Linked DNA regions of Homo sapiens: regions 1, 3 and 4 are each linked to region 2. Evidence: fine-mapped expression QTL. A gene starts in region 2. Each other region holds a variant in brackets. All regions are shown on one strand. Distances are between the middles of the regions. Region 1 has its middle 61 kb from the start of FABP12. Region 2 holds the start of SNX16 (sorting nexin 16). Region 3 overlaps LINC02235 (long intergenic non-protein coding RNA 2235). Region 4 overlaps LINC02235 (long intergenic non-protein coding RNA 2235).

Region 1 (8,110 bases), 250 kb before region 2:
GCTAATATTTGTATTTTTAGTAGAGATGAGGTTTCACCTTGTTTGCCAGGCTGGTCTCAAACGCATGACCTCAGGTGATCCGCCCACCTCGGCCTCCAAAAGTGCTGGGATTACAAGCGTGAGCCACCCCTCCCAGCCTGAGACTATTTATTTTAACCATCTACTTAAATAAAAATGTGCAGGACAGGCCATTAGATCTCATCATTGTTCCACTAACTCATCATTTTAAAACAGCTTCATCTGAGCTTGGGAAACACTGACTTATGTTAAGTAATAGCCTCCCTCTAGTGGATAAAGATGGGAGGAGCAGACTGAGTTTTTTTTGGTTTTTGTTTTGGATTCCCCAAAAGCTAGACTTTGTTAGATTCAATTTATCAAGGCTCCAGCAAGCAATGTTGAACTTCTTTGTGGTTTAATTTCATCTGCATTGTTGTATTTTATTTCCATTATGGTTCTCTTCATCCTTGAAGTCATTCAGCTAATAAATATTTATTGGATACCTGCGATGTGTCAGGCACGGTTCCATGCCCTGGAGATACAGCAGTGAGTGAACAAAACAATTTGAAATCCTGTCTTTGGGAAACTTAAAACAATATTAGATTGTTATCATCATGTGCTTTCTACATGCCAGACTATGTACTTAGTTGTTTGCAATTATTATTAAATTGAGTCTTTCCAACAGTCATGTTTGAAAACTGAGAAGCTAAGAAACTTGCCCAAGATCACACAGAAACTGACGGACCAGAACACCTCAGGAACTTCTCTGACCATGTGGTCAATTACAGACAACCCAGTAATTCTGAGTGGCCCTGTCTTGATTTTCATTGTGTTATGCTTTTTTTAATTGTCTGCTTCTCCAACTAACATCATTATAACCCTAGCACCTGAAACCTTCCACTGGGTTCTCCAGAAACACCTGGTTAAATGACTTAAGGATAATGAAATAAATGAACAAAGAGTCAAACTCTGGACTATTTGACAGCAAAGCCCTTCTCACCGATGTCTCCACTGCCTGCATGAGTGTCCAGAAAACAGAAAGCAACCCCTTCCTGGATGGCTCAGTTGAATTATTTCAGAGCTATATGTCGACTCCATTTTCTTAAAGAGTAGGTGAAGAAAATGAGTCTAACATAAGTGAGATCTGATTCTGTGGAAGATTTTTAAATCTTTAGCCCTTTTCCTGTTTAGAAAAAAAAAAAAGTGCAGCTCGCTGCCAGTGCTCATTTTATTTTACATAAACTTGCTCTTTGAGGCTGAAGCAAATCTCACTGATTTTCAACATGAAAATACAATGTAAAAATTGTTCTTTGAATTATCTCTAAACAGAACTAATATGAAAACTGTCTGAATCATTAAAACTATTTTGGAAAAATCTGATTCATCAAATGAATCTTTGGCCAACAACTGTTCAAGAACAACGGTAGGAATACCATGTTTTTTTAGGATTTGACATTTTCAGTGAATGAGAATTACTGTATTTTGTACATGGAAATACCACCTCTAAAAACAGAATGCTATAAATAGAATGATGGATTTTGCTTCCAAAGTCACTATACTAGAGAGATGTGAAAATAATAATAAAAGTGAGATACTTCATGGAAGTTATCTCGGAGTAAATGCTGCAGCTGTCAGCGCCACTGGCAATTACTCTCAGGGAGAATGGGAAAGGGGTTAAACAGGTTCTCATTTGCCAACTCTCCTGGGTTTTACCACTAGAAGAATCAGGGAGAAGCTAAAGGTGCCTTCAACTTTTGGAGGAATGTATTCCCCTGAAAGGGCCTATTCTGCTGTGGGCAGCAGGAACTTACCAGAGAGGAATAGATTCAAAACCCGCTAGAGATATCATCTATTGGAATTTGGCAATGATTAAAGAGATGGTGATGCAGGACCAGATGTGGGAATGAGTTCTTTTGGGGACATGATGAACTTTAAGCAAGTATAGGAAGTCCAGGTAGAGATGCCCAGAGGGCAGCTGGAAGAGCCACCTGAGTTTGGGAAGGGAGAATTAGGAAGATTAAGAGTTATCTGCTGAGAGATGATAGTTGACATTGTAGAAGAGGTGACTGCAGAAAGGCAGGAGGATAAGATGATTTAGAAACAATTTTTCCTTAGAGGATCTTCTTAGTGTGGATCCAACCTATTGGGGAAAGATTTATCAAGGAAGTTGTTATATGAGCTGGACAGAAATGAGCTGCCCTTGCATGTGCAGCAAAACCTGCTGTGAGTAGAATCTAATGCCAGTATAAAGGAGCCCGTTTGCATGGTACTATTTTGTTATTCTATAGTAGTTATTTCATCAATCATTATATGCTCTATACCATTACTTGCCACTAACCAAGTAACTTGAGAGTGTCATAGCTATCATTCAAATCTATTAATCTTTCTTGGTGTGTTTAAAAGTCATTAGCGTTCTGGCCAATTGCAGAATAGTAAATATTGAAAGAGTTGTCTTACCATTTGAAGTGTTTTCTGGCTACAATAAATATTTGTTCAGGTTGTAGCACTGCCTGGGTAATCACTAGGTAAAAAGGCAGGATCAACTTCCAGTGCTAGAACAAGCAGAAAAAATTACTAGGTGCAGGAACAGGTTTTATGGTGGATCTCTCTTAACCTACTCTTTATGTTTGAATTTTAAAGAGGAATTATCATTGTCTGCTCACATTACACAATGCACAGTAAAACAAACCAAAAAGAACAAATGAAAAAGGGCTTATTTTAGGACAACAGTTTTAAAAAACAAAACAAAACAAAAACCAAAACAGGGTGATCCTGAATATTGCAAATCAAGAGGCCCAGCCTGTCATCCAAACCTCATTAAATTCACAGAAGTGGTTCTTCCCTCCTTGTCAAGCTTTTTCTGTACACGGAGTTTTGAAAGATAAGCTTGCCAATTGATTCTCTGCAGTTCTTTCTTCATCTCACCCTGATTGTTTTCTCCAGTCAGATTAGGGTGATAACTGACAACAAACATCTTAATTAGAGAGGTCAAGATATCAGTTTCTGGTAGGTTAAAATGCTCTTAGAGTCACTATTTTTATTTTGCATGTAACAACCTCTTTGATAAACCTTTCTTCAAGAGGCTAGATTCACACTAAGTAGATGCTCTGAGGATCCTTCGTCTCTGATTTCATCTTTCTGCTTTAGTGCAAACACCTGTCCTACAGTGTTAACTATCACCTCTCAGCAGACAACTCTGTCTTCCTAATTCTCCTTCCCACACTCAGTTGGCGATTCCAGCTGCCCTCTGGATATCTCTACCTTAATTTCCTACTCTTACTTGAAGCTCAGCATGTGCCAAAAAGAACTCATCTCCAAATCTGCTCCTGCACCACAATGTCCCTAATGATTGCCAAAATCCCATGGATGATATCTCTACCAAGGATTTTTGATCTGTCCCTGTCCTGTGAGTTCCTGCTGCCCACAGTCAAGTTGCCCTCATTCATCATTTCTTGGACTATTATAAAAGCCTTTTAACTGGCTTCTATTATTTCTGAATACACTTCTGTCTGCATGCTGCCATTCATCAATCTCTGAATCCGGTGTGCAAGTTGCCATTAATCTCTCTGCTGTTCAACAGCCTTGAGCAGCCCAGCCTGGCATCCAGGACCCTGTGCAATAGGGTGTCTCCCAATATGTTCTTAAACCTAAGTGCATGCTCCCTAAACCAGAGTTCTCGCCCTTCCCTAAACTAATCAGTCTTTCCCTGTCTCCCAGGGTTTTCTTATACTATTTCTTCTTCATGATATGCCAGTCACATCTCTATCTTTCTGGATTTCATCCATTCTTTAAGGCCTTCAAGTTCAAAAGCCAACTTTTCCACAAAGTATTTCCAATTCCTCCTGGGAGTTTTCCCTCCAAATCTTTATCACACATTGTTGTCTAATTTCATCAAACCTTCCTTATTTTTTTTCTTGGTATTAGGGTTATTAATATAATTTTTATTAATTTATAATGTTTTATTTATTAATAAGACACATTAATTTATGTGTCTTCTTCCCCCTATACCCACACACCCCCATGCTGGATGTGGTACAGCAATGAGGCGTGAAGAGAAAATAAGTCTCAGGACCACTAAATCACTAAGCCAAAGGGAAAAGTCAAGCTGGGAACTGCGTAACAGGCAAAGCTGCCTCCCATTTAATTCCTAAATAAGATGGCTACAAAGATTTTTAAAAGCTACATACCTCTCTCACAATTTTCTCACTAGGAGATTCCTTGTGGTCCCCAAGATCCTTACCCTAAAACAGTTCTGTCGAATTTCACACTGACAATGTAAATTGATAGATACGGGAGAAAGGATAGAACTCAAAGTCATCCCTCAGCTCAACTGAGACAAATGCATATCTGATTGCTTCCTTTGCCCTGTGTTTATTTTATCTTATGTAAAAATGCAGGTTCACTGAGTCAGATAAATGCAAAAGTGACTATTCTGGCCGGGCGCGGTGGCTCACGCCTGTAATCCCAGCACTTTGGGAGGCCGAGGCGGGCAGATCACGAGGTCAGGAGATCAAGACCATCCTGGCTAACACGGTGAAACCCCGTCTCTACTAAAAATACAAAACAAAATTAGCCGGGCGCGGT[G/A]GTGGGCGCCTGTAGTCCCAGCTACTCGGGAGGCTGAGGCAGGAGAATGGCGTGAACCCGGGAGGCGGAGCTTGCAGTGAGCCGAGATCGCGCCACTGCACTCCAGCCTGGGCGACAGAGCAAGACTCCATCTCAAAAAAAAACAAAGTGACTATTCTTCTGCCCACCTCTCACATGTGAAAGGCTGATCAAAGATTCAAAAGAATGCAACCATTTGCCTCTTATCTACTCACACCTTTTAAATATTTTTCCCCTTTCTCCACTACCCTTCCCCCTTTAAATATTGAAGCTCTCAAAATCATCTTTGAAGAAAGGCACAGACCTGTCACCCAGGTGCATGTCCTTAACTTTGGCAAAATAAACTTCTAAATTGATTGAGACATATCTCAGATACCTTTTTGTTTACACAGGAAAAAGCAGGTGCTTTGAATCCTAATTCTAACACCTATCTGCATAGTCAGGAGTAGTTTCCTTATCCATTCTAGACTTATTTTTTTCTTATTTGTGAGAAGGGAGTAATGCTCAACTTTTTCAAATTAAATTAAATCATGTATATTAACTACCAGGTACTCACTAAATGCTCCTCTTATTAACTATAATTATCCAGAGGGGGAGCACTCAGCCTTCTCATCTCCAGACCCCTGCAATGCCCTGCCCATACCTCCAGAAAACAGGTGCTCAGAAGCTTGGTTGAACTGAAGGAATTTGTCTTTAGGTGGGTCCCTTTGCTTAATACTTACCTCAGAATTTAGAAGCAGTTTGGCAAGCCCTGTGCTGATTGATGGAGCACTAAAGGATATTTCCCCATTAAATTAGTCAGACTTGGGTTTCAGCTGGATGAAAATGGCCCAATTCTTGCCCAATTATTATAAAGCTGCTGTTGGTATGATGAAGCCTAGCTGTCATTATGTTTCAGAAAAGATGAAGGCATGTGACAAGTAAGTATTTAAAAAAGTGAAAACACAGTAAATGCAATGACGCCCAAAAACCTCAATCCTGGTTTCCAAGGCAGAAAGTGGCACTACACTGCGTCCTCTAATGGCTTCTGGGAGTCATTTAGCTGAGAGGTCTCAAATTTTGGTCTCACTGGAGGTTCCTCATGGAAATGACTGGGGAGAGTAAAACAAAATAAGAAAATCTGTATTTTCCAGCTGTAACACATGGCCAATCATCAGACAGATAAATCAGACCGTCCCCAGTCCCGATGTGGTACAATTTCCTGACTTAACTCCATTTGTAGTGATTCTCACAGGCAGGGAGGTTGCGGTACAGATAGAAAGGCTAGAACGAATTTTCCCTTATGGAAACATTTCAAAACAATCTAGGGGTAGCCTTCACTGCCAGTAATTCTGAGAATCATTCTTTAAAGCTCCTATAAATTAGTGGCTTTATGGTGATTAGCTAGCAAGTAATGAATACAAGACAGTGATTAAGGAGGAAAGGTTTATGCCCAAGCAAGAAAAGTCACAAATGGGGAAAAGTTGTCTCACCAAACATCCAAGCCACTGTTTCAGAAGTTTTCTAGCTGGTACCATGAGTTTAATAAAGAGAAAATAGGACATATAGTTGCTTTATGACAGTAAAATAAAAAAGTCATTCACTGATCAACAAGTACTGTATTTCTCTAGTACATATGCACAACCTCCTCCTCCATACTTCCAGCACAAGTGAGCATACACACACACACACACACACACACACACACAGCTTTCTCCAGGTCTGCCAAGGGTGCTTACTCTGCACCAATTGCCAAGAATACCTTGTTCTCTACAGAAGCTGAGTGTAATCATTATTTTTCTATTTGTCTGGCTATCTACCTGCCTGTTTCTTGCCCTGTTTCAAAAAATCATTTTAGATGGCTATATGGATATATAACATAACAAGAACTTAAATTAGAAGTGAGATAAAAATAGAAATAAAAACAAATCAAAGATGAAAACACAGCAGACAGAGAAATAACTAAAAAGCATAATGCTCCACACAATTGCTACCAGGGAATCACAAATTTGTCTATAAGTTTTCCAGTGGCCACATTTGAAGAGAAACCTAGTCAATTACATAATTCTGGTCTATAAGAGAGATTCCCAAAGTTTTGTGTGCATCTGAGTCACCTGAAGAGCTTATAAAATGATAACCATAATTTCAAATTCTGTAGCTCTGTGGTAGGCTCCTAGAATGTATAATTTAAGCAAGTTCCCATTGACCTTGGAGATGAACACATAAGGACTCGGGAAAAGAACAGTTTTTTTTTATATTAAAATCTTAAAATCATAGTGAACTTTCTTCTAGGGAGTAACAAAGAGAACCTTGTGAGATACAATGAACATTCTTACAGTGATGCAAAATGAGTTTCAGAGGTCACTGGCTGCTGCTTACAATAACATTCAAATAGGCTTTCACAGAGCTTTGTAAAAGTAATTATATTGAGATTTGGTGAAAGTGGAAATGAGGGCAAACTATATAATAGTGTTTCCCAGGAACTTGATTTTTGCCAAATTGGCTTGACCCAGGATAGGAACTAAAAAGGACTTTATAACTACTCAGTGTCAACTTTATACCAAGCAAAAAGGTAAGAACCCCTTAGTAACTATCCCAGCAAAGCATACAAGCTTCAGGTCAGCACCGAGGCTGATCTACAAACTATAATGTGGTTTTGAAGGAGTGTAATCTAATTAATCTTGTCTTTAAAGTTTATTCTCCTTCAGGGCTTTAGTTGTGATGGAGGGAGGAGGCAGAGAGAGCCTGAATGGAAGGGACTGAGTAAATCCCCACTATGGGGATTGCTCTTCGTGAAGACTGTTTTAGTGGGCTAAAACAGTCTTTAGCCCACTTTAGTGAAGTTTGTTTTTAGTGGGCTAAAATCATCCAAATTTCTCAGTATGATAAAGTTGTCAATATAGATGCATTTTACATAATCATTTAAATTTCCTTCATTTCAGTTTTATAGCAGAAAATATTTGTTTTATTATATTTTTCACATCTCATATCTGTCAGTTTGATCTGAAATGACTGCAAGATTTTGGGGTGCTTCATGGGGTTTTGTTTTGCTTTGTTTTGTTTTTTAACAAATCAAGTATTATATGAGCTGGTCCTTTATGTGAAAAGGAGAAAATCTGGACTACTTTTAGACTATCTATTATTTGCAGGTGCGCATAAAATTATGGCCCTCAAACCTGAGTATAAAATAGCATAAGAGAGATGCTATTAGATATTAAGATTTCATTCATTTATTCAACAAGTATTTATAAGAACTTGGTATTTGCCAAGCACTGTGCCAGATAATTAGAGTACAAGAATGAGCAAAACACTGCCTCCACAGTGTTTATAGTCATGTCCTTACAGGCAAAATGCAATTATAACATAGTGTGGTAAGTGGTCTGAATGAAGAAATGCAGAAGACTCAGGAGAGGAAATAAACCCACCCTTGGGTTGTCAGGAAAGGCTTCTTGAAGGAAGTCACAGGGAAGGTAAGACCAAATATGTAGGTAATATACAAGTGGAAGTTAGACATGTGTGGGTGGGTTCAGTG
Region 2 (8,110 bases):
TTCTCCCCAGATTAATCTATAGATCTAACAAAATCTCAATGCAAAGGGTGAAGAATAGCCAAGGCCATCCTGAAGAAAAAAGCTAAAGTACATACACTGCTACATATCAAGACCTATTATAAGACTTTATTAATTAAGACAGTGTGAAATTAGTAAAGGATGAAAAAATAGAACACAGAAGCAGACCCATGCATTTATGGTCACATGATTTATGACACAGACAACACTGAAAATGAAGAGGAGAGAGAGTGGTCTTTCAAATAAAAGCCTGATTAATTGGTCCCATCTGGAAAAAAAAAAAAAAAAAGACTTGACCCTCACCTCACACCATGGACAAAAATCAATTCTGGTGGTTTACGAATCTAAATGTGAAAGGTCCAACAATAAAGATTTTAGAAGAAAACATAGGACAGTATCTTTGTAGCCTTGGAGTAGGCAAAGATTTCAAAAAGTGCTAGCCATTAAAAAAAGTAATAAATCAAGCCAAATTAAAATTAAGAACTTTTGTTTATCAAATGTATTATTAAGGAATTGAAAAGGCAAACCACAGAGTGAGAGGATAGTCATAATACATGTATCTGAAAAAAAAATTATATCCAAAGTGCACAGAAAACTACAAATCAAAAGGGAGACTTCCCAAAAGAAAAATGAACAAAAATCATGCACAGATATTTCACAAGAGAATATCCAAACAGCCCAAAAAAATTTTAAATTCAATTAGTCATTAAGAAAATTCAAATTAAAACCACAACCAATGTGATATTACTCTGTACCCATGAGAACAGCTGAAATGATAAAAATGTTAAAATATCACATGTTAGGAAGCTATGGATCAACTGGAACTCTTATATGCTGCTTTTAGGAGTATAAATCAGTACAACCATTCTGAAACACTGTTCACCAATATCTTTTAAAGCTGGGCATGTAATTTGGCAAGGCTAAAGAAAAGAGACCAGATGCAAAAAGAGTATATAATTCCATTTAGATAAAGTACAAAAATAGGCAAAATTAATCTAGGCTATACAAAAGTATTGGGTGAATGGGTCCTGACTGGCAGAGAACCTAGAGCATTTAAGATTCTAGTAACGTTCTTTTCCTTGATTTATGTGCTATTAATAGTTACATAGGTGTGTCTGGTTTGTGAAAATTTATTAAGGTAAAGCAAAAGTTTACTACAACATGATAGAATTCAGTGGTGTAAAAACCATTAGAATTTCATATTCAAGAAATTATAAGTACAAGTTTACATTAATTTAACACTGGTTTGAACACAGAGATTAGCCAATCTTTCACTTTGTAGTGTTATACAGCAGAAGTCAATACTTACAGTAAATTTAGCTCTTTCTTCCATCACTTCATAACCCAGTATAGTAGGTGTAGATGGTCTATCTTCCCAATTCACTGTTTCCGGATTTTGTTCTTCAGTGTCTCTTGGTCTAGTAGAATACTCAATGGAAGAAGCTGTACCTGTAAATTTAGTCCTAATGAGGGGACTGCTACAGACAGATGAAGTATTATCCATTTGATCAGGAACACTTGTCTGTTTAAAATTACCCATATTTGAGTCTTCTAACTGGCCCTTAGAAGAATTTGAGCTTGTTGAGACACTGCCAAAAGAAGAACTTCTTTGATTTCTGTTTGTTGTAAAACTGGAAGCAGAGTTTCCTATGGGCATAGGAACTGGGACATAAGGAGTTGCCATCTTCTTTTGGCTTTTCCAACAAGCTTGCACACTGTTGAGTCCACTTAGAGAACAACTAATATGCAATCCATTATTTTCTTCTTAGGAATTCACTATCTAAAAATGAAAAGGACATATTAAAAGGTTAGTCTTTAATGTGCAGCAGGATTCAAAAGAAAAGTATTCTTTTCAATTTTATGACACTATTATTTTATTTGGAATGAAAACATACCTCAAACCCCTTCTCCCAGTTGTCTTTAAGGACTCCTATTTGCAAGATAGAGAGAGCAAAACTACTTCACACTCTTTTTCCTTGACTCCATGTTACATGTTATCCCTTTTTCCTCTACTTTATTCCCTTGTGAAGTATTTCTGTAAAGTTCATTTTAACCTGATTTCATGTATGTAAAAGTTGGTAGGAGAAAGATTGGTAAAGACCCTTCTGAAGCTTTATTCCATGCTTATCATCTTGACAGTACTACATTCAGTACAAGAGAGAAAAAAGAAAAGGAAGAAAACTATTTACATTACCTCTGGATTTAATCAGAAAGGGAGGAAATCTATTCACATTACCTTTCAATTTAATTAGTGAAACTATAAAGATTTACACAGAGTAGTAACAATGAACCAGATGCTTTGATGCTACATAGTATAATTCTATAGAACCCAGGATTAAAAATACACACTTGGTCAAGTTACTCAAATAAAACCCAGTGAACACTGAACTTATATGCAACAAAATTAAATAGTGAAAATTGTAACCGTTCTTCACAGCTTACAGGTCATCACTAATTCTGCTCTACGATAAACTGAGGGTATTTAAATCTTTATAACTTACACTCAAGAATCTGTTATCAAACGGACCAGTATATCTTGTGTCAGAATAGTATCATAACACAAAGAAGAAATGGTTTACTATTACTTTGTTAAATAATAAACTCATAAGAAACTGTAACAACTACAGACCAACAAAATGACAAGACTACACACAACAATAACTGCCCAACTTTTCATACGAAACTCTACTGGTGGGAAAGGTAAGAAATGAGTCACCTGGACTTGGAAAGATGCTGAAATAAGATTTTTAACTCTGGGCTGGGCGCTGTGGCTCACGCCTGTAATCCCAGCACTTTGGGAGGATGAAGCGGGTGGATCGCCTGAGGTCAGGAGTTCGAGGCTAGCCTGGCCAACATGGTGAAACCCCGTCTCTACTAAAAATACAAAAATTAGCCGGGCATGGTGGCGCAGGCCTATAATCCCAGCTACTTGGGAGGCTGAGGCAGGAGAATCGCTTGAACCCGGGAGGCGGAGGTTGCAGTTTGCCGAGATCGTGCCATTGCACTCCAGCCTGGGCTACAAGAGGAAAACTCCGTCTCAAAAAAAAAAAAAAAAAAGATTTTTAACTCAAGTGGCTCTCGGCAACATTTCCCCATTATCAAAGATTCATGAAACTTTAGCTGCTGATTCACCGCTCCTCGGTTCCGCCTGACGGCCTCCCCAAAAACAAGTAAGTCTGAAATCTCAACCTTCTCAAGGTCCGAGGGATCTACCTGGCCTTTGCCACTCTACTACCTGAGGCCGCCTGGCTGGGGGGAGGTCGCATATCAATACATATCAACACAACCACTGACGTCCGAAGATGTGAGCGCTACCCAAGCGTTAAAAAAACAAAACAAGCAAACAAACAAACAAAAAAACGTGCTGTGCTCATTAGGAGCGTCTTCGCCTCTACCCTGATGCGGAGTTGCTCCCAGGACGCTCAGTTCATTCTCACTCTGGAAAACCTCAGGTGAGGTGGCCCGACTCTGAGCAACCCCGTGGGCGGGAGGAAAGAGGCAAATACCAGGCACAGTTCGACCCTCGGAAGGTAAGGCCGGGGTCTGCGCCGGTCACGGGTCTTCCGCACTGCAGGCGGCGAGACCCGCAGCTCCCTGGGATCACAGACTCTCCCGCCTCCGCTGACCGGTGCGCGCCCAGCGCCTCCCAGACGCACAGTGGGGTCGGCGGTGGCCTGAAGGTGGCTGGGCTTCCTGCGGCGCCTCTCCACTCTCCCGCGGAGCCCCTTGCCGCCCGCCAGACATCAAGGTTGCAGGTGTCACCCGTACGAGAACCCGGGACAGCGACCGCCTGTCCTGAGGTAATGACCCAGTCTTTACCTCAGCCCCCTCGGCGATCCCGAACGAGCGCGCTTCCCGGTGACGGTTAAACCGGACTCTCCTTAACCGCAGCTTTTCGCCTCCTCCCTCAGCAGCGAGAAGCCTCACGTGACACCCCCGCCCCAAAAGCAGCTGCTCCCCGCCTCAGCCAGTCTCTGCCCGGGCCCAAGATCCCTGCTGTGTGGAAGGAGGGGCCGAACTGGGCGGGGGGGGGGGGGGGGGGAGAGAGAGAGAGAGAGAGGGAGGGAGGGAGGGAGGGAGGGAGAGAGAGAGAGAGAGAGAGAGAGAGAGAGAGAGAGAGACAGAGACAGAGAGAAAGAGAGAGAGAGAGGGCAAGAGCGAGAGACAGAGAGAGAGAGAGAGAGAGAGAGAGAGAGAGAGAGAGAGAGAGAGAGAGAGAGAGAAAGAGAAAGAAAACGAGCGAGGGAGAGAGCGAGAGCGAGAGAGAGAGAGAGAGAGCGTCACACACACATCTCTGCCGGAAGTGATGTCACGGCATGGGCGCCCGCCCACCGGAGGAGCGACTGGAGTTGATCGGCTGGGCGCTCAGGTAGCGAAGATAAATGTAATCTTGTGGCAGGAAATCGACATTCTCTGCACTATCTTTAGTTTTCCAACTGAACTTCTGAGAAATGGAGGCTACAATACCTAGTTTGCCAAACAGGAGAAGACTACAATTCCCAGAAGGAACTGCGACCAACATTGGTCCGTGCTCATACTTTGCATCATGGGACTTGTAGTCATCACCAGCTTGCGCTGATTCTAACAGGTTATAGATTGTTTTCTAGAATTAGCAGCGCTTTAAGGGATGACAATCGATTAGAAGAGTAGGAAGATAGAACACTGCTTAGTAGCTGATCCGTTCTACATAATTCAGAAGTTCTCATTGGCAGAGAACCCCTGAAATTCTGTAGTGTCTTTTTACTATCCGGTGAGCAATTTGATCCCGATGATGGAATATTAGCCTTGTTAGACATGCGCTTCTGAAGACCTGTGCAGTAGGGAAAGCCGAGTTTTTTGATAGGCAAATCCCAAGATTCAGACCGGTCTACAGGTCTGTTCATCATTAGAATCAGATAATGTGGTTGAAAAATCATTCCACGATTTCTAAGGCTTTTGTATAGTCCCAATGTTACCCATGGAGGGTCTTGACTACAAGTCATCCAGGTTCTTGGTTTTTTTAACAAAGAATTGGACAAAACGCACAAAGAAAGCAAGGAAAGAATGAAGCAAGGAAAGCAGAGATTGAAATGACTGTACACTCCACAGAGTGGGAATGGCCTCCAGCCAGTGGCTCAAGAGCCCTGGTTACAGGATTTTCTGGAGTTTAAATATCCGCTAGAGATTTCCCATTGGTTACTTGGTTTACACCCTCTGTAAATTAAGGAGTAGCCTGCAACCAATCAGAGGCTAAAGTTAAGTTACAAAGTTGTACTCCTATGGAAATGAAGACTAGGCCCAGATACCAAGGGCCTAGAAGGTTGGGCAGGGGGTTGCAAAGGGAATAGCCTCTGGTCTTTTTGTTACTTGGGCTTGGAAAGTTGGAGTTTTCCTTTTGATTTAGTTCTAGGAAGTCAGCGTGAATGGGCCTTAGGTTCCCTGCCTCCGGACCCTATTCTACTGCCCGACTAAGAGTGAGAAAAGGTGATAGTGGTCATTTTGAAATGAAGGTTGGAAAATAGTCTGGTTTGTGACATGATGATGGTTTTGGTTTAAGAGATTCTGCCCTTTTAGTGTGAATGAAATAAAAATAGAATTCTGTAGAAACAATGTTAGGTAGGAGAATAGGGTCTGGAAACAGGGGACCTAAGGCTGATTCATGCTGACTGATATCAGAGGCGACTCCATTTTCAACCCCTCTTTTTTCTGCGTGGCAGTTGCTGCGTGGCAGTTGCAACCCTCCTTTCTTTGGGTGGCAGTTGAAAAATGAAAGAACCTCTGATAGAGCCCCTCCCTCAACCAATCAGACTGGTTGAGGGCCTACTTTTCACTCTGATTGGTCTCCTTCCACAACCAATCAGACTGGGCATAGGCCAATGGGAACCCTCTAGAGGGTATTTAAGCCCCAGAAAATTCTGTAGCTGATGCTCTTGAACCCCTTGACTGAGTCTGTTTTCCTTCTGTGGAGTATACTTTCATTTAAAATAAATCTCTGCTTTCCATGCCTTGTTTGTGTGTTCTGTCCAATTCTTCGTTCAAAACACCAAGAACCTGGACAACTACCCTCAATTGGTAACATATTTTGGTGAGCCAGCCAGAAGGTAAGCCCAAAGTTTGGGATTTGTATTTTTCTTTTTCCTCTTTCTCTCTCTCCCTTTTCCTTTCCAAGCTGGGATCCTTGATGGACAGTGCCTAAGCATGGAGGCAACTGCAGGTTTCTGGCCAGGGCCACTCTCTGGTGAAACTAAAAGGTCCATGTGGAAGCACCTGACTGCCACCACCTGGTTCAGGTGAGGAACCTGAGTTCTTTTCTTTTTCAGTCTTTCAGTGGCCATTTCCTAGTAGCTCCTTGGTAACTGAAGGCAACTGGGGCCACTCTCTGGTGTTAACTGAAGGCCCAGGAGTGAATGGGGATAGCTGCCTTGCCCAGAAAGGGGAAGGACTCTTTTCTGTCTTTTCCAGTTGTAGTCCCTGATGCCTATGAGTGATGCAATTGGCAGTGGCAGCCTGTCCAGGGAAAATTCACACATGTTTCAGGTGGCTTAAGCCTTCTTTCCTTATGTTAAATTCTTCCGTCCCCCTACTTGACTGGCTAAGGATAAGTCACAGAGTTTGGGCATATTGTGGTCTGTGTAACTCATGGAGGGGATTCATGAAAGGGAATCTATGTACAATTTAATCTTGTCCAAATTTAGAAAGTTAAAGAATTGTTTTAAGTGTGATAGGAAAAAAAATCCAAAGGTTTGTCTGAAAGTTAATTCTAGAAGTAGAGACCTTCATCCAGGGACAAGAGGGAAAACTCACAGTGGGTCATCAGTGGTGGTTGGAATCATTCCAAAGTGGTGGTGGCACCAATCTAAGGTCAGAGACGTCTAATGTACTAAGAGGGGTCTCTGGCACTAGAGGATTGACTGCACCCGCTCCCACCAAGGGGCTCAGTTAGGCAAAAGTCTAGCAGTGTGAAAGGAGGAATTAGATGAAGACTGAAGGGGCCTAGAGTCTTCCTCACTGCCCCTGTCCAGGAACATCATAATTACTATTGCAGAGCCCTGGGTAACTAGATGTCATGGGTACCCAAATTCAGTTTTTTTTTTCCAATACAGGGGCGAATTACTCTGTCCTTACTGCTTATGCAGGAAAACTTTCCTCCCAGTCTAAGAGTGTTCCGGGAATGGAAGGAAAGCCACAAACGAGATTCTTTACTTCTCCTTTGTCAGTTTGAGAAACAAATGTTCCAACATAAATCTTTAGTAGTTCCAAGCTGCCTTGTCCACCTGTTGGGAAGCGATATTATCATTAAAATAGGGGCACTACTACAAATTTAAGCATTACCCAGTAAAATTGCTAATAGTCAAAAATACAGACAATATCCCAGACCACATTAATAAACAGGTTAACCTGCTAGCATGTTATGCTGGGAAGCCAGGTGTATTAGTCCATTTTCACACTGCTGATAAGGACAAACTCGAGACTGGATGATTTACAAAAGAAAGAAATTTAATGGACTTGCAGTTCCATATAGCTGGGGAGGCCTCCAATCATGGTGGAAGGCAAGGGAGGAGCAAGTCACATCCTACGTGGATGGTAGTAGGCAAAGAGAGAGGTTGTGCAGGCAAACTCCCTCTTATAAAACTCTCAGATCTTGTGAGGCTTGTTCATGATCATGAGAACAGCAAGGGAAAGACCTTCCCCTATGATTCAATTACCTCCCACTGGGTGTCTCCTATAACATGTGGGAATTCAAGATGAGATTTGGGTGGAGACACAGCCAAACCATATCACCAGGGAAAGCTAAAACAGCAGTGCCAGTCAAAATACCAGTTTAAAGACCCCAGCTATTGCCCCAATTGAAAACAATACCCATTTAAGCTGGAAGCAAGAAAAGGCCTGGCATCCATAGTTGAGATATTGCTTACCCATGAGCTCTTAAAAACCTGCAATTCTCCCTGAAACACCCCCATCTTAACCATTCTAAAGCCCTTGAGGGAATACCTGCTAGTACAGGATTTCAGAATAATTTATCACACTGTTATCCCCGTCCACCCATTGGTGGTGGATCCATATACCCTCCTGGCTTAGGTGCCAGGGGATGCAAAATGTTTCTCCTAGACCT
Region 3 (8,110 bases), 47 kb after region 2:
GGAAAATATATGGCTGTTAGAGTGACCAAAATGGGTATCATACAAAGAAATTTGTTCTCATAGGTTTTGGGATGGAATGGGAGAGTCAAGTACCCAAATGAGAATGCACCCATGATGCAGATGCACATTTTCTGAAAGCTAGAAATGACTGCTACATAAAAAAGCTGGTTGCAGTGGCATATGCCTATGGTCCCAGCTACTCGGGAGGCTGAGTCAGGAGGATCACTTGAGCCGAGGAGCTCGAAGCTAGCCTGGGCAACATAGTGATAACTTATCTCTAAAATAAAAGAAAAGAAATGACTCCTATAACCAAAACCCTGGGAAAGTTAAGAGATCCAGGAGTGCCACAGGAAAGAGCTAGTGCCTTGTGCAGCCAGTGGCAAAGGGAAGCCAAGAAGCTGTTTGTCTCTCTCTTCATTTTGTCCCAACTGAAAGACCTTCCACAAATGGGAAAATTTGCATGGCATAAGCAACCTTAGTTCCTATATACCATTTACTGCCTTAATGCTTGTTATTTTTAATTTGAATGTTAATGACAACTTATTTTTAGAATCTTGTAAAAACTTGTAAATTGAATGTGTACTATGTGTTTTAATTATTGTTTTAATTTCTTGGGGAGGAATTCAAGGAAGCCTATTTAGACATGCAGCTACAATTCCTTATTATACATATATACCTATATGTACATACTATTGCTTATAATATTGATTTCCAAGATGATGTCGTTGAAAGGCCTTTAGATAGAAGACTTTGTTTTGGTCACAATATTACTATTAAATAGGAAGTAATTTCTCTTTGTAGGGCCTTTACCTTTTTTATGCTAAACAATAAACAAGTGTGTTAGGTAAAATAATTTCAGTCTCCATTCAGTAATATGAATTTATTAGTTTGTCTTAATTTAAGAAGATGGTGAAGAATAATAGAGAATCTGTAACTTAATTTTGCACAAAATGATTCTCATGTATATGTACTTTCTACTTGGTCACACACTGACATTTATGAGGAAATTGTATTAGGAGGTTTTGAATATTTCTTACCTATATAACTTGAAATAGATTGTGAAGAATCAATAAAATTATTGAAATAGTTTTCATTATAAAGGTGGAAAAATTTTCTGTATGATAACATAACACTTCAAATAAATTTAGGAATACTGCAAACGGATTAATGTAAAATTAAATTATTGAACTTCAGGCATATTATATAATTTCATTTTTATTCATGTGGAAGAATAGAAACATAAACTAGTGGAGATAGTAGAATATTTTAGAGAGAAATAGTCAATTTAAGTGCAAGTAACTAAGAATGATTGTTGATAGGTGTTAAAAAAAAAAGAACCTCCCCCCCATTTTGATAATTATTGTGAAAGGTAATATACTTATTTGAGAAAAAAGTATCTAAATATTTATCTTTTTTTCAGATTGAGAGTATATTATCTTAAATTGTGACTCAAATATTTTGTCATTCTTGATTACAGTTGAGATTTTACTTAATATTACATTACATAAACCATTAGCTGAGAATAATTGAAGCATATTGCAAACCACTAAACATAATAATCTTTTGTAAAGAGTGAAGACTGGAAATGAGTTTTCAATTTTTTATAACAAAATTCCATTAGTGGTGGTTTATATATTTTTAGCCAGAAAGTATTTTTGCCAAATAATATCATATGTAAAACTGCAACTTAGGAATAGATTGAAAAATTGATTAGAATGATGCTGGTGGACCCAGAGTCCAATTTTCTTGGCCACTTAGTTCTCTCCTTTTTTTCCACCCAACAAGGCTCAATACTCTAGAACTCTGGGCATTGGAAAAGCAGTTTGAAAATCAATACCTTATTGCATAAAGTATGTAACTGTAGTATATGCAGTAAATTATTCTATAAATGGAGACATTAGCCTATAATATAACCAATATTTGAGAGACATTTTTTTATTTATGCATATAAAATACAAGTGATTGTTTTCTTACTAATAGAAATTAAATCTTTGCATCCTAAAGAGAGTTTAGACTAGACTATGAAAAAAGGGTAGTCTAGTTTAAAATGGTGCTCCTGATTACTTAGAAATAATCAAATGAACTACGGAGCTTCTATGTAGGAAATCAATGTGCATTCTCAAGAAAATGAAATAAATTATTGCTCCCAAGTTTGCTCAAACTGCTGCATTAAAATCCTGGCTAGAATCAGATGGTTGTGAAAAACACAGCACTGTTGATTTATCAAAATACTAGAAAACATATTTTATTTTGGGATCTTTTTATTGAGTGTCTCACTTTGGAAAGATTTAAAATAACGAGTTTCAGATCTGGATGTTTCTCCGGATGTTAATGAACTGCTCAGATGTACTCAGGCGAGGTTAGCTGGAAATCTCTCCAACATGTTTGATGGCATTTATATAATGTGATTGTCTTCATAGAATGTTTACCACTGAGCATCTTCCCGAGAAGCAGTCAATAAACACTTGACTGATAGCTCACAGAGCTACTAAGCTAACAGATGTCTTTGTTGACAGTCTCAGTATAGCCAAAGCAGATTTACTCATCATTGTTTACAAGTTTTCCCATCTTCCCCAGTTTTCTGTCAGGCTTAGTCATAAACACTGTACCATCTTCTCTGAGCATGTAATCTCAGATTCACCGTACTTTTTCACTTCTCATGACTCTAGTAGTCAACAAATCAAGAAACGTTATCATTTCCCTAATTCCACAAAGCCATAACTGTATTTTTCAACCAAAACCTGCCCTTGAGTCAGAATTGGATTATTCCACAGGCAAACCAGGCAAAGGTCTGTTGGGCCTCAGATTAACTCGTATTTTTCCAGAAAGGGAGAGGCAGCATCACCAGCTAGCTGTAACAATATTCTTGTCCTTGATAATGACATCACACTGGATGACACCAATCCTTGAAAACCTTCAAGGTAGCTTGATGTTATGGAAATTACCCATGCCCCTGAGCAGATTTTATTAGACACTTTTATTTGTGAGCCAATGGTATAATCACATTGTGCTAGGAACAACTAGAGAGAAACCAAGCGTGCACAGTCTATCACGTTAAGAACCTAAATATGGCTTGAGTGGCATTATTGTATTGTGGTGAAGAACACAGACTCTAGAGCCAGATCGCCTGAGTTCAAATCCCTCTTCTGTTGCTTACTACCTGTGCAACCTTGAGCAAGTTAAATCTTTTATCTCTTGATTTCTATGTCTTAAATGAGGATTATGAAA[A/G]TAACTATCTCATGCAATTGTGATAATTAAATAAGTTAATATAGGTTACTTATAGGTCCCAAGTGCCTGACACGTAGTAAGCCCTATGTATATTTGCTACTGTACTTGACAGGGCACTTCTTTGTCTCTTTATTTCTCATTTGCTCATGCCACATATATTTTGAATTCATCAAGCTGAACTCCAAAAGCGGTAATGAGGAAAACACCTCTCTAGTATTTGTTTGTACTAACTGATGTACGTATGTGTGTGTATATGTATGTGTGTATGTATGTATGTGTGTGTTGCATTTGAAAGAGAAGGAGCTGAGAATAAAGCCAGCAGTTTGATATTTATCTGCAGGTCTATGGACTGGGTTTGAATGGCCATGTTTAAAAGACTGACAGAATGATAACTGTAAGAGAGATCTGGGAAGTGCCAAGCAGGCTGTGATGGTCAGAAGCTGAAGAAACTCTCCAGTGAGACTTTGTGAATAGCAAACAGTTACTCTGGAGTGTTGCAGAATAGCTTCTGAAGGCTGACTCTATTGATTAACCATCACTTACTGCACTTCACTTTAGTCTACTTGCCTAGTTCAAATAAATCGATACCCCCTTTAGTATTGGGCACTTGAACAAACAAACAAAAACATCCTATTTAGTGGGCACAAGCCCATAATAGGAAAAGCTAAGACTGAATAGTTTTTCAGGTCTCATTCTTCCACTTTTGGCTTCAGAGCAGAAAACCCTCGGTGATAGAATATTCTATCCCTGGAGCTTGGGCAGCTCCAGTGTGGTTCCTCCTAGGCCATGAGTAGCCAGGATCGATATCTTTTCAGTCCTGGGACAGTTGGAGAAAGGTCCATTCTGATGAATGCGTAATACCAATTGTAGCAGCCCAGTTGGTGAATAGAGCTCAGACCTTTCGAAGCATTTCCCCTACTGCCTTTCCAAAGACTTCTCTCTGTCAGGATCTTGCAGGTTCCTGTCTCTTAAGGCTGTCACAATGAGCTAATGACCCATTGGCTTATTTCCCCCTAGAATCGAGAAAGAGAAGGGAGGCCTCAATTACTGTGACGAGCCAGAAGACAGTAGCTTCTTGTTATTTGTGGTAATTGTGTTCTTATGTTTGAATTTTAATCAATCCAGTACATGTACGTAAGGAAAAATCAGTTTAAAAACTTATAGCAAACACAGTAGCTTTCTACCCCGCTCTTCTCCACCCCAGATCCTGCCCTTTAGAGGAGAGCTGCACGCGCTTCTTTGCATCTGTATAATTTCCACTATTTCTAAAGAATCTGCTTCTGCTGCTAGCTTTTGTTTTATTAATTTTAGGTATCTATTGGCTTCTGTTATTGTAGTTAAGGATGGATCTTATTTACATGACTTCCCCTTCCTACTGCCTCTCAATGTAGTTTTATCACTATTTTTGGTTTTCACTATCAATCTTTAGAATATTTTGACCACTGAACTACATGTAGATTGTACCATGATTATGTTTCATATCTTTCATGATAATTTTGACAGCTCTTGTTTGTTGTTCTCTACTCTCCTGTTTTCTTCATTCTTATGGAATTATATTTTTTCATTTATTTTCAATCTTGAGTAACTTGTTTTTGCTCCTTGAAAACTTGTAAAATTTTCTCTTTACCTTCTGTGTTAGTGTTCTGTGGTTGCTGTAATAAATTATCATAAATAGGGTGGCTTAAACAACAAAAAAATTATTCTCTTACAGTTCTGGAGAATAGAAGGCTGAAATCTGTATCACCTGGCCGAAATCAAGGTGTTGGCAGAGGTGCACTCCCTCTAGAGGCTCTAGGGGGGATTCCACCCTTTGCCTCTGCCAGCTCCTGAATGTGCTACAGACATTTGCTTTAAATGTTTAGGGGATTATTAAAATAGACGAGCAATGAATAGCCTTCAGAATAAATCTTGTTTTCCAGGCTCTGATGGCTGCTGGCATTCCTTGAGACTGGACATCACTCCAATCTCTGTCTCTGTGGTCACTTGGCCTTTTCTTCTGTGTGTAGTATCTATCTGATGCTCTCTTATACACACATATGATGGCATTTAGGCCCTATCCAGATAATTCAGGATAAATCTCACATCAAGATTCTCAATTTAATCACACCTGCAGACTTTACTATTCAAAGTAACATTCACAGGTGCCAGGGATTAGGAATTGCCATCTTTGTGGGTCATTATTCAGCATACTACACCTTCAAATTCCATTATTGCCATGTATGCCCTACTGTATGTCTTGTAAAATCTTCCTGAACCTCAGTAAGAACCTTAAACGTACAGATTCAAAACATTTTTTAAAATCACAAATTTTTTTCATTATAATGTCTTTAATTTTTTCTTTGTTACTTTTTCCCTGAAATTTCATGATTTATTTATTAGATATTTTAGATCTATTTTTTCCTTTTTCCTTATGATTAACTTCTCCATAAATTTTTTTTTCTTTTGAGATATGTTTTCCTCTGGATCTTTAAAGACACTAATTGGGTTATCAATAGTGGCCATTCTTTCAATTAAACTATTTAATTTTTTAAAGAAAAATATCTAGTAATTTTTGACTCACAGAAATCTCACGGTATTTAAATCATAGGTTCTTTATTTTTGGATGCTGTCTGATCTAGTAGTTTTGATGTTCTATTTGTTCTTTCTCTTCTTCTTTTTATGCTTATTGTTACTTTTTTTTTTTTTTTTTTTCTCTGTCTTGGGTGCATTGTGCTTTTATTCTTTTTCTTTACCATTGGGGCTTAGGTTTAGCTGCTGGGATATCTTAAAGTAGCCTCTGCTGCTATGGTCTTATTTCTTCACATCTAGTAATTTTTGATAGTGTACTAGATATTGTAAAACATATTTATAAAAGTATGATTTTTTTTCTTTAAAAGTTTGGATTTTGAGCTGGCAGGCAGGAAATTTACTGGTGGATCATCATAATTCTTTGAAACCTGTTTTTAAGCTATATCAACTTTATTAAAGGTCTAGGGTAGATCTTCTTCTATAGCTAGAGTAGTTCTGCTTCTAAGCTATGGCCTTTGTAAGAAGTCTCAACTGAGCGCCTGGGGTTTTTAGCAAGATCTTTCCATGGTTGCTGGTCAGAATTTCTATTTCTTCAACCAATTTGAAACCACAAAGATATACATTTTATTTCACAAATACCTAGCAGTTGTTCTCTACCATCTTCCTGAGTCTCACCATGTGCATGCACAGCTTTAGAATTTAGCCAATGTAGTAAGAGGACCCCTATATAGATTTGTGAGGTCTTTGTCTTCATGGCTTCCTTGTCTGCAGTAGCCAGTTCCACATACTTCAGCCTTCTTAGCAACTTTAAACATTGATTTTTGCTTCCTCAGCTCAATGATACTGCTGTGCTCTGCTTAACTTGCCTCCCTGCATTATAGTCTGGAAAGATTTCCCCTGTAGAAATTCAGGCCAATTATGGGGCTTACTTTGTGTGTTTCCTCTTTCTCAGGGATCAGAGTTTTGTGCTGCCTTTTGACTAATGTCTGACAATATCGCTATGTGTGTTGTCCAATTTTACAGTCATTTACCATGGGAGGAATAGTCTGGTACCAGTTACTTTATTATGTTTATAATCAGACATTTTCCTGCTGCCAATTTAATATATTCACTTGAATATTTTAAAGGCATTTCAAATGCAACATGACCAAGAAAAAAAAATTAATGGTCCTCTTTTCCCAAATCTGGTTCAGTTATACAAGTTGGAAACTTAGAAATCATCTTTGATGTCTCCTTCTTTCTCATCTTCCACATCTGGTGAATCATCAAGATACCTAAGTATCTCTTGAATTTATACTTCTCTCCATCTCCACCACTCACCTGTTAGATGAAGCATCATGTTGAAATAGCTTCCCAACTGATTTATTTAATAGTTAACTCTTGACTCCTCTATCAGTTTATCTTCTCATTGCAGCCTGGCTGATCTTGTTTAAAAGTCAACTGGGTCATGTTTTTCTCTTCTCCACATCTTGGTTTGAATCCTTCAATGGCTTTCCATTGGTCATAGAATGTGGGCAAAACTCCTTAACATGGCCTTGTAATCTCTGCATGATCTGTTCTCTACCTACTAGACAGCTTTGTTAAAGATCTCATTTACCTTACTCTCTTCACTTCATTCCATGAGATTTTGCTCATGCTATTTTCTTAGGAATGGTTTTCTTTCATCTATTTAGTTAATTTTCTCTCACCTTTTAGGACTCAGTCTTATTATTTATCTCTTCTTTACAGAAAATTCCTGACTAGGTCAAATTCCTAAATTAATATGTTCAAATTCATATATATCAATTGAAATTTCACATTTGTGTGACTTCTTTAATGTCTTATCCTCTGCTACAGTAAATACTATAAAAGCAGTTTCATTAATATTTTTTGCCCATACTTAGCAGAATGTCTGAAATAGAAGTGATAAAGTAATATTGCTTGAATAAGAAAATTTGCTCAAAATCAAGAAGATGGTAACTGTAGGTACATCACTGCCCATACCTGTTATCATATGAGAATTGCAGGCATAGTTTCCATTAGAAACATAAAGTTCATATTTATATCAGTGTCAGAAATGTCACAATACCAATTTCTATATTGGATGGCAGCTCTCTTTTAAGTAAATTCTGCTTATTATCAAATCATAAATAAATATTTAGAAGTTTCTTGCTGTTTTCAGAATTTAAATACTAAAATCCCAAAAGCAGGTATAAAAAGTATTTTTAACATCATACAAGTGTTAAATTTACACATAAAATGAACAACATCTAAAGTTACATTTAGTAGCAGTATACCATGATTCTATCATATTTATGTTAACTTATGCTGGTTTGCTTGTATGCCAGACACTATTTGAAGTGCTTTGAAAGTATTAACTCATTTAACTATTAAA
Region 4 (8,110 bases), 70 kb after region 2:
CAGAGAAATGCAAATCAAAACCATGCCAGTTAGAATGGTGATTATTAAAAAGTCAGGAAACAATAGATGCTGGCAAGGCTGTGGATAAATAGTAATGCTTTTAAACTGTTGGTGGGAATGTAAATTAGTTCAACCATCGTAGAAGATAGTATAGTGATTCGTCAAGGATCTAGAACCAGAAATACCATTTGACCCAGCAATCCCATTATTGGGTATATACCCAAAGGAATATAAATCATTCTACTATAAAGACACATGCATACGTATGTTTATTGCAGCACTATTTACAATAGCAAAGACATGGATCCAACCCAAATGCCCATCAATGATAGACTGAATAAACAAAATGTGGCACAAATATACCATGGAATACTGTGCAGCCACAAAAAGGAATGAGATCATGTCCTTTGCAGGGACATGGATGAAATTCAACAAAATTATGTTTTAGGGTAAAGATTTTGTTGTCCATAAGCCATTCTCTTGGAAGGAATTTATGAAGGAAGCCATCTAGAGAGATATGTGGCTTCCTATCTTTGTAGTTATCTGTTTAGAAACAAAAAGGAAGGTAGATTTTGTGTGACTCTGTTCCCAAGCTGAACTTCCCTTTGATATAGTGAGTTTGGTGTCCCAAAATTTTATTTTCCTTTCACAGTCTCAGTGAACTTTTGGGACAATATCAAGTAGTCTATCAAATGTGTATTTTCAGTCCCAGAGAAGGGAAAAGCAGAATAAAAATTATTTAAAGTCCAAGACAATTTACATCTCTCACTATGCATTTAATGATCTAGCTTTTGCCTGTCTTTCAAGTTTCAAATCTAAACCATTTCCTGACATTCCGTTTTCTCTTCAGTTCACTACATGACTCAGTTTATCGCACATACCATGCTATTTCTTATCTCTATATCTCTGTTCATTCTACAGTCTGTGCCTAGAATGCTTCTAACTCTCATCCTATGCAACCTAATTCCTACTTTTAAGTTCCAACCCATGTGTCATCTCCAAGGAACCTTTCTTTATACTTTCCATTCATTTTCCACCCAACAAGAGATAGTTGTACTCTTTGGTGCTTCCAGAAATACTTTTGCATATCTCTAGTGCTGCATTAAGCCATTATATTGCTGAGATCTGTTTTTCAGTCTTTTTTGTTTAATGCTAGAAGGACTATGTGTAATACATGTTTGTATCTCCAGCACTTAGTAGAAGGATTGGCATAAGATTATTTAAAGAATAAATAAGTAATGACTTCATTGATCTGGCTCTGGGTCTAAGGTTGATACACATACCATTAACAATAATAAAATACCATTAACAATAATAAAAATCAAATTTCCCTTAAATCTCATTCATTATGGCTTATATATTTGAAAATAAAAATATATTATAAATAATGAGTCTACATTTAAAATCTGAATATTATATTTTGGTAACTTATTTGTCATATGTATGTATATGGTAGAAATACATGTATTTTTCACTGCACAAAGCTTCAGTAAATAAGTCCAGGAATCCAGATGAGGAATTATGGAATCTATAATTCAAACACTTTCAAATTTTAATATGTCCAAAGAACCTTTGGGAGACTAATTAAAATGTAGTTTACCTTGCCTGATATCCAGAAATTCTGATTCAGTAAATCTAGACAACAGCTTAGAAATTTGCATTAAATAGTAACTACTCAGGAGATTCTGTTGTAAACGATATATAATGTCTGGTAGATACAAATATTTATGATCTATTGATAAAAAATTGATTCTTTAAGTTGTAGTTAGAGAAATGTCATTTAACAGTATATCCTACATTTTCACTTTACTAGATAAGAAAAAATTGAGGTTTAAAAGACCAACATTTACAAAAACTCTCTTCTGAAATAACATACGTTAACTACATTAATTTTAAAGTTCTGAATACATTTCACACTTCAGCAGTTAATGGAGACTGGTATGAACGTTTTCATAGACACAGGAAGAAAAAGCAAGCAGAATAATTCTCTTTATTATATTTTAAAATTTGTTTTCTAAAGAAGAAAACATTGTCTTTAAAATTTTTGTTTGATTTGGAGCACTAGATTCCTGGAGGAACAAATTGTCATTGAAGGCTCATGAATAAAAGGCTGAAGGGAGACTGCTGTAATCTATGTGCTCAGCAGTCGCTACAGTTAAGAGCAAGATTTCCCACCTGATTGCTCCATTCTAAATATTGTATTAACTCAGTTACTTAAGGGTATTTTAGAAAACAAGTTAATGGGCAATCTTGTCATATTATATTATATGCAGCAATCATGCTGCGTTGAATGGCCATATAAAAGAGAAACTTTAGAAAAATTGAGCCAAATTAGAGAATAAGAGAGTTAAAGAGTTGTTTTTACACACAAAGTTACAAGCCATGAAATGTCTTATAGAATATTACATTTGGCCTATGTAATTTTGGCAAACAATTTACTGATGGAATCTCAAAAGTGTATTATTTTGGATAAAAATTTGAATTTAATTCATTCTTTTTGATTATACTAAGTTTCTCACATCATAGTTTACATTGCATATTCACGAGTTCTCTGAGAAAGCCACTTATCTACTTTTCCACCAATCCATCTATTTATAAATTTAATATTTAAATGTATTCATGTTAGAAATGCAAAATGCTTGTTTCTTGGTGCTGCAAAGAAATAGCACTCGAACATAAATTTAATTCTCTCAGCAAGGCAATTTTTACTTCTATAGAAGGGTGCGACTTGTGAATGGAGTAATGGCAAGAGCATACCTGGACAGGGGAGGGGAAAGAGTTCTTATTCCTGATGCAGGTAGCCCCTACTGCTGTGTTGTTCCCCTATTGGCTACGGTTGGATGGCACAGTCTAAGCTAATTCTGATTGGCTATTTTAAAGAGGTCAGGGGTATGAGCCAGAGTGGTGGGGTGAGTAGTTTGGTGGGAAGGACGTTTAGGAACAGGTAACTAGAGGTGACTTAGGTCAGAGCAGGTGACCAGGAGTGACTTAGGTCAAAGCAGCTGATCAGGATGAGTCAGGATGGAGCAGGTGACCAGGGAACAGATGTGAACTACTAATTAGGACTGGTGGGAAAGTTGTTTACTGAAATTAGAAGCAAGGGAGCGAACAGAACCAGGAAGTTAAACTTTAAAATGGAGAATAAAAGAATAACAGAGCTGAACATATGAAGAGTAACTTGGGGTTCATTATATTTAACATTCACAAAACTTGGAAATGAAATTCTCCAAGAAGATGGTATTTCAATTCTAAAGGGTCCTAAAACCCATATCTCAATATAGACCAGGTGTGGTAGAATCTTGAGTCATTTTCAGTCAGGTCGATTCTACTCTCTATTCCTCAAAAGGCCAGATAATTCCTTTCTTGGATCAGACTACTGAGGGTCTCATTGGATATCTGATTCATGGGTCAGCAGATATGGAATATGTAATTGCCACCATAAAAATTATAGAAAAGAGGAAAACAAATGTCAATTTGAACATAAAAATGAATATTAATGGCCCATTGAAACCAATATAATATTGAACCACATGATTCCATCACCCCCATTTTCCATGCAAATCTCTATGTCAATCTTTTTTGATTCATGTAGGTTTTCATATTCCTTTTCTTTTTTTAATACTTTATTCATTATGGGAATTGATTTAAATTTATTTTTATTAAAATATGCTTAATAAAAATTTAAATCACTTATAAGTAAACTCTTTTTTAAACTTTTAATTTTTAGTTTTAGATTCAAGGAGTACATATTTATGATTGTTACATGGGTACATTGCCTACTAGTGGGGACTGGCCTTCTAGTGTACCCATTACTCAAATAGTGGGCATTGTAACCCGCAGGTAAGTTTTCAATCCTCACCCTTACTCCCACCCTCCTTCCTTTTGGAGTCCCCGGTGTCTATTATTTCCACGTTTATGTCCATGACTTACAAGTAAACTCTTAAAATATGTTCACCCTGAAGGAAAGTAGAGTATCTCACCCCAAAATATACTTTTTTGGCATATTTTGAGATGGATATTCAGAGGGGCTACAGACAAAGGAATAGTTCTGAAGAGTTGTCCTTTTGTGGAGGAGATTTACATCTGTAGAGGAAATCTACATTAGCGAAGTAAACAGTAGATGCGAACAGGATTTCTCTGAGACCTTATCTACATTATCTTGATCTAGGAAAGATTAACTTAGGAAAAAGAGACACTTTTGAAGTTCTAACAGAGAAACTTTCACTATAGGCTATTATCTAATCTGAGAGCTGCTACCTGAGAGATTTCATTTGCATAACAAGATACTTTTTGCTTGATATGCAATTCCTCCCCTCTCCCTCCCATAACTGATCTCCATGTTCCAAGCCTCTATTCCTTTCCATATGGTATTAAAACTTCAGTACTCTCAAAGAAATGTGAGATTTCTTTGAGTCTCATACTTTTGTGTGTGGTCCCCATGCCTATGCATACAATGAGTTTTGTTTTTCTCCTGATAATCTATTGTGCCAACCTAAAATAATCAAAAGAGTCAGAATCTAATTTAAAGAGAGTTTATTCAAGTGCAGAATTTAAGGATAGCCTTCTTGGAAATACCAACTTCTAAGGGATGGAATTAGAATTCAGAAGTAGGAAAGTTTAGGTTTCATTTAGATAGGCAGAGGGAGATGAGTTTTAGCAGGATTACAACATTTTACATACAAGGCTAGAGCATAATTACAGCAATGTGATTGGTTACAGATGGTTTTTCTTTTGGGGAAGGGTATATTTAACACTTTTTACGGAAGGCATAATAGTCATGGGTTTTCTGTCATCTGGTCTAAGCAAAGCAGGACAACAAATGAGAAATTAATCTGTAACAAGGGTCACTAAAAGGCAGAGGTTTGTGTCCCTGATATCATTTAATTCTGTCTAGTCAC[T/A]GTGAAGAAAAAGATAAATAAGAAAGTGAGTTAATTTATAATCTGAGAAATAGAAGTTGTAACCATATGTGACTCAGATCACAGTCACATCTTTCTTAAGGCTTAAAGTGTTTTGGGGGTTCCAACAGCTTTTAAATTGTGTTTATTTTCAAAATTGTCAAATAATTTCAGCAGACTTAGACTCAAATTTTCAGAGGCAAAGTTTCAACTTCCCTAAAACCCTTAGTTTTGCCTTTCCCATGCACTGGTTAATTGTGGTTTATGCCTAACTACCTCCTGTATCAATCTTGAGTTTTAGAGAATGTTTCCAGAAGGGATTAAGGCACCTTTGAATTCTATTTAGTACTGGTCCAACAGATCGTTAATTACCCTTTCCTTATTTTTCTTTGTAGGACCAATAATCATCCTTTTCTTTTGATGCCTGGTTTATATATTTGAGCTCAGCTCTAGTAAAATCTACCTGCCACTCTTACTCTTTTATGCATAAATCTTTGTTTTGAGCTGTGTAGCAGCTTGCTTAAACATGGTGGCTTTGGAATCAGACTGCCTTGGTTTAAATCCCTATCCTATCACTTGCTAGGTATGAACAATTTAGATATCCTTTCTAAGTATTGGTTTAAAAATCTATAAAATGAGGATTCTTTGAGGTTTAATTGAGATAGTAGAGGCAAAATACCTGGCACATAATAAATATTCAATACATGTAATTCATAGTTGATATCATTGCTATTATTATGGTAGGTAACTAGTCATAAATAAGCAGGGCAAGAGAGGCTCCCCATCCCACCAGAAATGTCAGGCAACCATCAGGTGATGGTCAGGTAGTTGTTAAACTGCCTCTCTAAAATAATAATTGGTCACAGCCAGTGCCAGGGAAAGGCAGTCTCCCAATAAACAGAAAAACCTGAAACTGATGATCAGCAGTGCCAGGCCTCTGAGCCCAAGCCTCCACGTATACATCCAGATGGCCTGAAGAAAGTGAAGAATCACAAAAGACATGAAAATGGCTGGTTCCTGCCTTAACTGATGACATTACCTTGTGAAATTCCTTCTCTCCTTGTCTCTACCCTCTCTTTTCTCTCCACTTTCCTGGGGGGCAAGCACCCCCCACCACTTCTCTCCATGTCTCTACCCTTTCTTTTCTCTGGGCTTGCCTCCTTCACTATGGGCAAACTTCCACCCTCCATTCCTCCCTCTTCTCCCTTAGCCTGTGTTCTCAAAACTTAAAACCTCTTCAACTCACACCTGACCTAAACCTAAATGCCTTATTTTCTTCTGAAATGCCTCTTGACCCCAATACAAACCCAACAATAGTTCCAAATAGCCAGAAAATGGCACTTTTGATTTTTCCATCCTACAAGATCTAGATAATTCTTGTTGTAAAATGGGCAAATGGTCTGAGGTGTCTGACGTCCAGGCATTCTTTTACACATCGGTCCCTCCCTAGTCTCTGTTCCCAATGCGTTTCGTCCCAAATCCTCCTTCTTTCCCTCCTGCCTGTGCCCTCAGTCCCAACCCCAAGCATTGCTGAGTCTTTTCAATCTTCCTTTTCTACCGATCCATCTGACCTCTCCCCTCATCCCCAGACTGCTCCTCAGGTCACTCCCCACCAGGCTGAATCAGACTCCAATTCTTCCTCAGATTCTGCTCCTCCACCCTGTAATCCTTCTATCACCTCCTCTCCCCACACCCAGTCTGGCTTACAGTTTTGTTCCACAACTAGCCCTCCCCCACCTGCCCAACAATTTCCTCTTAAAGAGGTGGCTAGAGCTGAAGGCATAGCCAAGGTTAATGCTCCATTTTCTTTATTTGACCTCTCCCAAATCAGTTAGTGTTTAGGCTCTTTTTCATCAAATATGAAAAACCCAGCCTGGTTCATGGCCCGTTTGGCAGCAATCCTGAGATGCTTTACAGCCCTAGACCCAGAAGGGCCAGAAGTCCATCTTATTCTCAATATGCATTTTGTTACCCAGTCAGCTCCTGACATAAAAAAAAAAAAGCTCCAAAAATTAGATTCCAGCCCTCAAACCCCACCACAGGACTTAATTAACCTTGCCTTCAAGGTGTACAATAATAGAGACAGCCAAGTAGCAATGTATTTCTGAGTTGCAATTCCTTGCTTCCACTGTGAGAGAAACTCCAGCCACATCTCCAGCACACAAGAACTTCAAAACGCCTAAGCCACAGTGGTCAGGGCTTCCTTCAGGACCTCCTCCCCCTGGATCTTAATTCAAGTGCCAGAAATCTGGCCACTGGGCCAAGGAATGCCCCCAGCCCAGGATTCCTCCTAAGCCATGTCCCATCTGTGTGGGATCCCACTGGAAATCGGACTGTCCAACTCGCCTAGCAGCCTCTGGAACTCTGGCCCAAGGCTCTCTGACTGACTCCTTCCCAGATCTTCTCAGCTTAGCGGCTGAAGACTGATGCTGCCCAATTGCCTAGAAAGCCTCCTGGAACATCACAGACACTTTAGGTAACTCTTACAGTGGAGGGTAAGTCCATCCCCTGTTTAATCAATACGGAGGCTACCCACTCCACATTACCTTCTTTTCAAAGGCATGTTTCCCTTGCCCCCATAACTGTTGTAGGTATTGACAGTCAAGCTTCAAAACCCCTTAAAACTCCCCCACTCTTGTGCCAACTTGGACAATATTCTTTTATGCACTCTTTTTTAGTTATTCCCACCTGCCCAGTTCCCTTATTAGGCCGAGATATTTTAACCAAATTATCTGCTTCCATGAGTATTCCTGGACTACAGCCACATCTCATTGCCACCCTTCTTCCCAACCCAAAGCCTCCTTCACATCTTCCTCTCATATCCCCCCAGCTTAACCCACAAGTATAGGACACCTCTACTCCCTCCCTGGTAACCGATCACACATCCATTACTATCCCATTAAAACCTAATCACCCTTACCACACTCAACACCAATATCCCATCCCGCAGCACGCTTTAAAAGGATTAAAGCCTGTTATCACTCGCCTGTTACAGCATGGCCTTTTAAAGCCTATTAACTCTCCTTACAATTCCCCCATTTTACCTGTCCAAAAACTGGACAAGCCTTACAGGTTAGTTCAGGATCTGTGCCTTATCAACCAAATTGTCTTGCCTATCCACCCCGTGGTGCCAAACCCATATACTCTCCTATCCTCAATACCTCCCTCCACAACCCCTCCAAAACCCATTATTCTGCTCTGGGTCTCAAACATGC

Evidence for each region. PIP is the estimated chance that this variant, and not a neighbour inherited with it, causes the effect.
Region 1: its variant is fine-mapped to the expression of SNX16 in whole blood (INTERVAL, PIP above 0.99).
Region 3: its variant is fine-mapped to the expression of SNX16 in whole blood (TOPMed, PIP 0.96).
Region 4: its variant is fine-mapped to the expression of SNX16 in whole blood (TOPMed, PIP above 0.99).

Annotation. Positions count from the first base shown.
Region 1 is chr8:81,590,775-81,598,884 of GRCh38, forward strand. No RefSeq gene overlaps it. Among named protein-coding and RNA genes, the nearest start is that of FABP12, 61 kb to the left of the region's middle. The variant G/A (reference allele first, on the strand shown) is at 4,582.
Region 2 is chr8:81,838,285-81,846,394 of GRCh38, forward strand. It overlaps SNX16 (sorting nexin 16), which reads right to left and starts at 3,901. Exons shown (of 8, transcript NM_152836.3): 1 at 3,838-3,901; 2 at 1,328-1,798. The coding sequence starts at 1,702. It overlaps LINC02235 (long intergenic non-protein coding RNA 2235), which reads left to right and starts at 4,335. Exons shown (of 8, transcript NR_170320.1): 1 at 4,335-4,387; 2 at 6,167-6,287. RefSeq lists enhancers at 2,975-3,907, 3,835-3,884, 4,316-4,585 and a silencer at 3,455-3,504.
Region 3 is chr8:81,885,617-81,893,726 of GRCh38, forward strand. All of the region lies in intron 7 of LINC02235 (long intergenic non-protein coding RNA 2235), which reads left to right. Among named protein-coding and RNA genes, the nearest start is that of LINC02235, 47 kb to the left of the region's middle. The variant A/G (reference allele first, on the strand shown) is at 3,229.
Region 4 is chr8:81,908,589-81,916,698 of GRCh38, forward strand. The region is part of intron 7 of LINC02235 (long intergenic non-protein coding RNA 2235); the gene reads left to right. Among named protein-coding and RNA genes, the nearest start is that of LINC02235, 70 kb to the left of the region's middle. The variant T/A (reference allele first, on the strand shown) is at 4,899.